Linked DNA regions of Homo sapiens: region 2 is linked to region 1. Evidence: fine-mapped expression QTL. A gene starts in region 1. The other region holds a variant in brackets. All regions are shown on one strand. Distances are between the middles of the regions.

Region 1 (4,377 bases):
AAGAGGGGAGCAGCGGCGCTCCGAGGCACAGAGTGCGGCGGCCGGGCCGGGTCCCGACGCGTACAGCTCGGCGCAGTGCGTGTTGACCGCGGCCTCTGGGCCCGAGGGCGGCTCCGCGGCAGGCGGCGGCGGAGGCCCGACTGGGGACGGGTAGCAGGCCTGGATGACCGGCGTGGCGGCCCGCAGGCCCCGGCCCGGCCGACCATAGGGCGCGTAGCCGCCGCCGCCGCCGCCGCCGCCCCGCAGGTGGCAGTACTTGCCGTGGCGCTTGAGGCGTTTCTTGCACAGCGCCACGAGGTCGGGGATCTGCAGGTAGCTGGCGGCGGCCAGCACGGCGCCCAGGCTCGGCTCAGCCCCCGGGGCCACGGCCGCGGCCGCAGCCGCCTCTGCGCCGTCAGCCAGGCGGCCGGTGTAGATGAAGTCCAGCACCAGGCGGAACACGGCCGGGCTCACCATGTCATGGTCCAGGTTGAGCAGGTTGTCATGCACCACCAGGGACTTGAGGTAGGCGCTGCTGGCCGCCAGCACGTTCTTGTGCGCGCGGAAGAGGGCGTTCTGCACCACGATGATCACGTCGCACAAGAAGCCCTTGGTGCGCTGGTTGTTGAGCTGCAGCAGCAGCTGCCTGGAGTGGCCGGGCGCCTCCATCGTGTCCAGCATCGTCTGCCCAGCACACTCTCCTGCGGGGACACACACCGGCCGGGTGAGAGCCGTGCGGCGCCCTGGCCGCCTGGCCCCAGCCCGGCACTTCTCCCCTCCACTTCCCCTTCCCTCAGCTGAGCGGGGGCATCAGCCCTGCGGCCTGGGCACCGGCGAAGGACCGGCTGCCCTCTGGAGTGGGAGCCCAGGCCGGCCCGCCCGGACCAGGAGAAGGAGCAGGAGGTGAGCGGCCGCCGGTGGAGGGGAGGCCAGGGCGGCCTGCACGCCCCAGGGCACCTGGCTGGGTGCTGGGGCTTCCGAGAAGAAAACTGTTCAGGCGCAGTGACCCTTTTGGAGACAGTTACCCGATTTAAGTAAAATGTCCGCTTCAGGAAAAGTCATTCAGGGCGGAGAACTTTACCCAAGTAGGGAGAAAGGGAGCCGAGGAACCAGCGCCTCCCGCCTCGGGAGAAGTTGCCCCAGTTGGGGGAAGTGATACGGAGGAGGGGAGCGCGGTGCCCGCCCTGGCGCCGCCCTGGCCGGGGGCTGTCAACCCTCGGTCGGGGCCCGGGCGGCGGCCGCGCGGGGAGCGGAGGCAGCGGCTGCCGTGGCGGGCAGAGCGCGAAGGCCGGGCCCGGCGCGGGGAGGGCGTTATATCGGGGCAGGAGGCTGAGGCAGGAAGCAGGTGGGGGGGAGGGGGGAGCCACGCAGCTCCCAGGGGAGGGAGGGGGCAGCGCCCCGGGCGGGCACGGCGCACAGCCGGCTGCGGCCCTGACCCGGGCCTGCGCCCCACCCGCGTCCCGGCCTCGGCCTGGGCCCTACACGCGCGGGCCCGGCGCCTCCCTCCGCGGCTCCCCCGGCCCCTTCTCCCCCGGAACTCCGCCGCCCCAAACTTGGGGAAAAGTTTTCCAACTGCAGACAGGGCGGGAGGAGTGCGCCGGCCCCAGGCCCTCGGCTCGCAGCTCTTCCTCGCGGCCCCCAAATCCGGCGGCAGAGCCCGGAGCCGAGCCCTGAGCTCCCCTGCCCGCTGCTCGCCCGCCCGACCCCGTTCCCCTCCTGGCCCGCGGGGCCCCGCGGCCCGTTACCTGCGGTCCCGGCGGGCCGGGCTCCCCTCCCCGCGGCGGTGGCAGCTCTTAGCCGATGCCCCACCCGCCGCTGCCAGGCCCCGAGCTGTGCCAGGGCAGCGCCCCTGCCAGCCCCGCCCGCCAGCTCCCCTTCCCTTCCCTTCCCCTCGCCTCTCCAGCCCATGTGCGGGCAGAGCCGGCCCCGGGCCGCTGACCCCGCCGTGAACCCGGCGCGGAGCCGCGGCCCGGTGGTCCTGAGTCCGAAAGGGACGACACCCGGAGCCCTGAACGCCAGCCGCCAGCCGCGATGGGGCACCCGCGCCAGAAGATGCACCCGAGGCGGCCGACGCACGAGGACCGGGCTGTCCCGGGTCCCCCGTCCCTCCCGGTCCCCGGCTCGAGGACCCACCTGGGGGGCATGTCGAAAGCCCCGGGCCCGGCTGACGGCGGATCCAGGGGGGACGTGGCTGCGCTGCCCTCCGCCCGCCGGGCCCCCGGTCGGTCTGTCCTGCTGGTCCGTCCTCCCCGCGTCCTGGTCGCGTCTCAGCCCCGCCGCGCTTTCCGCACACTCTTATCTGGAGCGGCCCGGGCCGGCGGGCGCTGCTGCGGCTATGGCGCCACCTCGCGGGCGCGCAGGGCTCTGCGCGGCAGGCCGCTGCCTTCCTCCCGCGCACCTGAGCTGGAGGCGCACAGATGCTGAGCCCGCGGGGAGGGGCCCACCCTACCCGCAGGTTCGCCCTCCCACCTGTACCCACCTGGGACCCCGACCCCGGACACGCGAGTCCCAGAAACCCTGGGGCTTTGAGCTGAGCGCTCCCATGTACGTATTTCTAGGCACACAGCCCCAGTTCGGAAAAGTCCTGCCCGCGAGCACGGGACTCGGGTGGTGGGGGAGAGGTTATCCTGCGCAGGAGTAGCCGAGCTCTCCTGGAACTCCCCGTAGACATTACTGTACGGCACTGTCCACTTGGACGCACTCCCCAACACACCCACCCTCACTCAGGCGCATGGATTCGGTGTGCGCGGCATAAACTGATTTGTCCCCAGCCCTATCCAGGCACTGATACTAACAGGCGCTCATGTTTCCAGAAGCACACCCGCCCCTTCCCGCAGCCCTAGCGCTCTGGGATACTCCAGGGGCAGCCACGTAGGGCCCTCCGGGAACCTGGGCAGAGGTGTTACCCACACAGCCCGCCCTGAACTTTCGGGTCTCCTAAAGGAACCCACGACGAGTCATCAGGGCGACTGGAAGTGGCTGGACAGCGCCTCCGGGGGGTCCAAAGAAGTAACCATGGGGCCCTAGAATCCCCCTGTACGCCGTTTTGAAGAATCCCGCGTGGACTTCTTCTCCAACCCACCCGCCCGAAGGAAACAACAGGGGCGCCTGCGGCTGGGACCCCGCAAGGTCCCGCGCCCCACGTGAAGGTCAGGTTTGTGTGGGTGACGTCTCTTCTGGGAGAAAGGGGACCCCGCACTGTCGCGCCGCTGCTCGCAGTACTACTCCGGAAGTGGCCCCGTGCAGCCCCGCCGCGCACCAAGCCTCCTGCGAACGCCGGATCTCCGCGGCCCACGCTCCGCCTCCGCCCCGCACCTCCTGACCCCCGCCCACACACGGCGTGGAGCGGGGGGGGGGGGGGTCCCCGAGAACTCCGCCGCTTCCGATTGGCTGCGCCTCCCTCCACCGCGGAGCGCGAGGGGCTGGGGCGCTGCGTTACCATGGCAACCGGTGAGGTGCGCCCAGATCCTGTCCCTCCGAGGCCTTGGAGAGCTTAGCAACCGCGCTCGCCGCCCCCCGCGCTGTCCTCTGGCCCCCATGGCCCCGCCAGAGGTACCGGCTGAGTCACCGGGCGAGGGGCAGCGGGCGCGGCTACCAGCGGCCCCCGAGCGACACCAAGGTCTCGGGCGCCCCCCGGAGGCTCCCTTTGCTGCGCAGGCGACTTCACGGCTTCGGTGCCTGGCGGAGGCTTCGGTCCAAACGAGTCCGCCTGATTCCCGCCGCTGCCTGAGTCCGCCCCATGTTCTGGATCCATCTTACCCACTCCCTCTCCCATGTCTCCCCATAGCATCCTCACTTTAGAAGCAGTGAGGTCCCAAAGAGGAAAACGGAGGCCTCCGGAGCTGCCGGTCTCTAGGGAAGGCGGACCCCGACATCTCGCCCGAGGGACGTGCTGCGGCCTGAGGTGGAAGTTACGGAGTGTTGAGGGGAGGTGGAGAGGCTCCTCATAAGTGCTCCTAGAGCTGGGCTTTGACGGATGAATAGGAGTTCTTCTACCGAGCAGGAAGGCATTTGTGAATAACAGAATCCCTGGAACAAAGGCTAGCGGCAAGAAAACTGGAGCTCTAGTAGGCCAAATCCAGACTATGCAGGGCCTCTCTGACCCCATCTCTTTTATCTTTTCTCTTTTTGATAGAGTCAGATCCCCCACCCCCGACTTCCAAAGAGCCCCTCCGCCCCATGTATCTTGTGCAGTGGAGTCTGTGCATTGCTAACCTGCCCCAGGGGTCTGCTGTGCCCACAGTCTTTATTCTTCAGCGTTCCCCCACATCCGCTCCCCAAGTTAACTTACTGCCCCTAACCCCATCCTCAAGCCCTCATTGCTTCTGTAAGGGAGGGTCTCACAGCCCTGCCCCAGCCCAGGCCCCTAACCCCATCCTCAAGCCCTCATTGCTTCTG
Region 2 (4,377 bases), 36 kb before region 1:
CAGTGCCCCTCCCACCTCTGAAGAGAGTGGAGATAAGAGGAAAAAAAAATGCCAGCTGCTCAATTATCGAGCACCTACTGGGCCCAGGCATCTCGCTAAGTATTTGATATGTATTCCCTCTGTCTTTTTTTTTCTTTTTGAGTCACGATATCACTCTGTCACCCTGGCTAGAGTGCAGTGGCGTGCTCATGGCTCACTGCAGCTCTGACTTCCCCGGCTCAAGCAATCCTCCTACCTCAGCCTCCTAGTTAGCTCGGACCATAGGTGTGTTGCACCACCATGCCCAGCTTTTTTGTTTGTTTGTTTGTTTTTGACAGACACAGTCTCACTATGTTGCCCAGGCTTGTCTTATCTTTTTTTTTTTTTTTGCAACAGAGTCTTGCTCTGTCACCCAGGCTGGATTGCAATAGAACGATCTGAGCTCACTGTAACCTCCACTTCCTGGGTTCAATAGATTCTCCTGCCTCAGCCTCTTGAGTAGCTGGAATTACAGGAGCCCGCTACTAACCCAGCTAATTTTTGTATTTTTAGTAGAGATGGGGTTTCACCATGTTGGCCGGGCTGATCTCGGACTCCTGACCGCAGGTGATCCACTGCCTCAGCCTCCCCAAGTGCTGCGATTACAGGCATGAGCCACTGCACCCGGCCTGTATTATCTTTTAAACCTCACAAACAACTTGAGCAAACAAAGGCTCAGAGAGGTTAAGTAACTTGTCTAAGGATAAACAGCCAGGAAGTGGCAGTTAGTACTTGAACTCACGTCTGTGTAACTATGAAGCCCAGGCTCTTGTCCAACCTCCTGTATTGCCTTGTCTTGCCTCTTGCCAGAATGGCCCTGTTTTTTATACTTTATTTACCTCATTACTTCCTGTGTGTGCTTCACAACTCCCCTGTTCCCCTGGTTCTCCCTTCAGTGTGAACATCGTCTCCTTCCTAGTAGCCAAATATACGTGTACCTTTTGGGATCTTCAGTAACCCTGTCTTGGGATAGTCTCCCCACCAGCACCAGGTCTTGCCATCTGACCATTTGCCAGTTCCCACCTCCCCTTCTCTAAGAGACTTCAGCACACACCTGGTGGTTACAGGTGGGGACAGCAGGCATCTGTGCAATGCTGGCTGATTGATAATGGCCCTCATTGCCTCCTCTAAGAAGAAAACACAGCTGTTGGGACCAGACACATGGAATGGTGTGGTTGCTGTGGGTGGACCAATGATGTTAGCATTTCATCTTGTGACCCAATGACCCTTCAGCTAGCACAGGCCAACCATAGGACTACGGAGGGTTGGATCTGGACACCGGGATTAGAAATGACTGAGAAAGGCCGGGCGCGGTGGATCACTTGAGGTCAGGCGTTCGAGACCAGCCTGGCCAACATGGCGAAACCCCGTCTCTACTGAAAATACATAAATTAGCCAGGCATGGTAGTGCGCACCTGTAATCCCAGCTACTCAGGAGGCTGAGGCAGGAGAATCGCTTCAACCCGGGAGGCGGAGGTTGCAGTGAGCTGAGATCATGCCAGTGCAACTCCAGCTTGGGTGACTGAGCAAGACTCTGTCTCAAAAAAAAAAAAAGAAAAAGGGGCCAGGCGCAGTGGCTCACGCCTGTAATCCCAGCACTTTGGTTGGCCAAGGCGGGCGGATCACGAGGTCAGGAGATCAAGACCGTCCTGGCTAACACGGTGAAACCTCGTCTCTACTAAAAAAAAACACACACACACACAAAATTAGCTGGGCGTGGTGGCGGGTGCCTGTAGTCCCAGCTACTCGGGAGGCTGAGGTAGGAGAATGGCGTGAACGCGGGAGGCAGAGCTTGCAGTGAGCC[G/A]AGATCGCACCACTGCACTCCAGCCTGGGCAACAGAGCGAGACTCTCTCTCAAAAAAAAAAAAAAAGCAAAAAGACTGAGAAAGTAGCCTGTACTTAACGCTTTACATAGAAAGAGGCCCAGCTATAGCAGGGGTAGGGAAAGAGTGAAATACTGTTTGAATTGATCCCTTGGACAGTATGCTCCGAGGTTGTCAGGAGATGCATCTGGTCCAAGGATGTGTGCTTTTTCTCACTCTGTCCCCCTTATCATTCAGCCCCTGCACAGGTTCTTTCTTTCCCTCCTCTCTGACCCATGAGCCTCTTTCTCAATTTCATACCAACTTCTTCTGACTCAAGTAGGCTGTGAATGTCTGTCTCCCCATCCTAAGCTACTGCCTGTGTCTTCAGACTGACTGTGCATCCTTGTGGCCAGTTTCGCTCCTGCCTTCTGGAGTCTGCTTCCTGCCAGGAGGCCCCTCCCCCTAGGAATGTGAATAAACCATTTCCTCTGTCCTCCCAGCTCCAGAGGATTCCCTGTGTGGTATTTTTTATTTCTTGTGTCTGAACTTCCATTGGCAGACCCCTTCGTAGGCTGGCCCACCCTTGGCTGCTACAGAATTGAGCTTCCCACCCTTCAGTTTCCTCTGAGGGTGAGTAGTGCATAACTAGAGGTTCCCAGTTTGTGAAAACACATTAGTCTGAGTTAAATTTCTTGTGGCCAATCCTGGAGGTTTGGCTCATTAAAGATGATAATTAACCCATTGCTAATTGACCTCAGAAGCCAGCCAAGCAGCCTGTATTTTACCAGCCTTGGTGTTGGATTTGTAGGCTATTTTAAGGTTTCTTAATAATCTCAGAAAGACTTCATGTTCCTGTCTGCATCTTATTTGCTCTAAGGACATTCTGTAAAATTAACAAGCTATAAAGTTTGATTGAAGGTTTCAACAAATGTGAGAATAATTGGCTCCATTTAGAGAAACAAGAAAAACAACCTGTAAACTTGAGTTTGTGGGGGGAAACCCGTGTGATTGTTCTCTTTAACCAGAGGAGCAGTAGCAAGCTGGACTGTTAAGACTAGAAAAAAGAACTGGCTGATAGTACAAGTTTAAACTCCGATTTCTCCAAACCAAAAATTCAGAAAAAGAAATTTTGCAAAATGACTAGTAACCATGGTTGTGCCTTCCAAGAAGCCTGTTTGGAGAAAACGGGGACCAGGTAACGATAGAGCGAGTCCCTCACTCCCTAGAGCTTGCATCCAGGGTCCTGGCTCTCCAGCCCTTCCTCATATTCCCTGGCTAGATTTGGAGGTTTTCTCCCTTCCCCGGGGCTGCCCTGAGGTGTTAAGTCTTGCAACTCAGAGCACATGAGTATGTGATACCTGGTGCTTAGTTCCCGTTCTCTCTTACCCTCCCTACCTTCATAAAGCAGCATATAGCTCGTTTTCTCTCCCCAACCCCCCTCCCCCGCCGGGCATCTCTACCCACACTGTGCTTGTTCCCTACCGAGTGGCTGTGAAGAGTCACCAGTTTTCAGAGAACACCATTTTTTCTTCTTTCCTTTTTTTTTTTTTTTTTTTTGAGACAGAGTCTCGCCTTGTTGCCTGGGCTGGAGTGCGGTGGTGCAATCTCGGCTCACTGCAACCTCCACCTCCCAGATTCAAGCGATTCTCCTGCCTCAGCCTCCCTAGTAGCTGGGACTACCACATGTACTACCACACCCGGCTGATTTTTGTATTTTTAGTAGAGATGGGGTTTCACCATGTTGTCCAGGCTGGTCTTGAACTCCTGACCTCAGGTGATCTGCCCACCTTGGCCTCCCAAAGTGCTGACATGACATTCGTGAGCTACCGTGCCCAGTCAAGAAACACCATTTTTCTTTACTTCTCCACCTCTCCACCTTAAATACCCCAGAACAGTAACCCAGTCTACTCTCTTGACCTAGAGGTTTTCTCCTTTGTTCCTCGCTCCCCTTGGCTCCAGCCCCTACTTACCCGATGCTTACATTATCTCTCTCTAAGGAACTGAGCCTAGGAGAGAACAGCCTCCGGTATCGCCTCTCCACATCTCACTTTCAGTTTTCCTTTCTGCTTGGTTCTTTGCGTGTGGACTTGATTAGAGTGATAACTGGAGCCCTAAAGCTAAAGGTTTCAGTTCCTGCTGCAGTGGTAAGCTGCCTCCGACAATCTTCAGGGGAAGGGAAAGGGGCTTTCTTTCAGCTCTTCCCTGACCTAAAGCCCCAGTTTTCTTTCCCAAGCTGATTGAAATGATTTGTATGTGATATTTTGTCAATTAACTTGGGAATTCTTGACAATCGCCTACACAGTGCATCTCCCTCCAGAAGGGTCAGGACTGTGACTGAGAAGGTACACCGCAGAGGAGAGGTCCGTAGGCTCCCCAGGGTGTTCCCTGGCTGGCGGCCCTTTTAGTCGCCTCTATCCCCAGTCCAGCCCCACGTGCTAATGTAGCCCAGGAAGGGAGCCTCTCCCGCCCAGCTCTTTCTCCTCTGGAGGATCCAGAGTTTGCCCCCAGAGCTGCGATATACATGCCACTTACATTCTCTGGTTTTCATTGATATA

Evidence for each region. PIP is the estimated chance that this variant, and not a neighbour inherited with it, causes the effect.
Region 2: its variant is fine-mapped to the expression of HIC1 in whole blood (TOPMed, PIP 0.91).

What each region holds. Positions count from the first base shown.
Region 1 is chr17:2,052,974-2,057,350 of GRCh38, reverse strand. HIC1 (HIC ZBTB transcriptional repressor 1) reads right to left here and starts at 2,248. Exons shown (of 2, transcript NM_006497.4): 1 at 2,113-2,248; 2 at 1-680. The coding sequence starts at 660. RefSeq lists silencers at 335-444, 795-924, 1,155-1,274, 1,325-1,734, 1,775-1,824 and 3 more.
Region 2 is chr17:2,089,185-2,093,561 of GRCh38, reverse strand. The region is part of intron 13 of SMG6 (SMG6 nonsense mediated mRNA decay factor); the gene reads left to right. It overlaps SMG6-AS1 (SMG6 antisense RNA 1), which reads right to left and starts at 3,824. Exons shown (of 2, transcript NR_199038.1): 1 at 3,793-3,824. RefSeq lists enhancers at 3,693-3,772, 3,803-3,902, 3,923-4,022, 4,033-4,212. The variant G/A (reference allele first, on the strand shown) is at 1,823.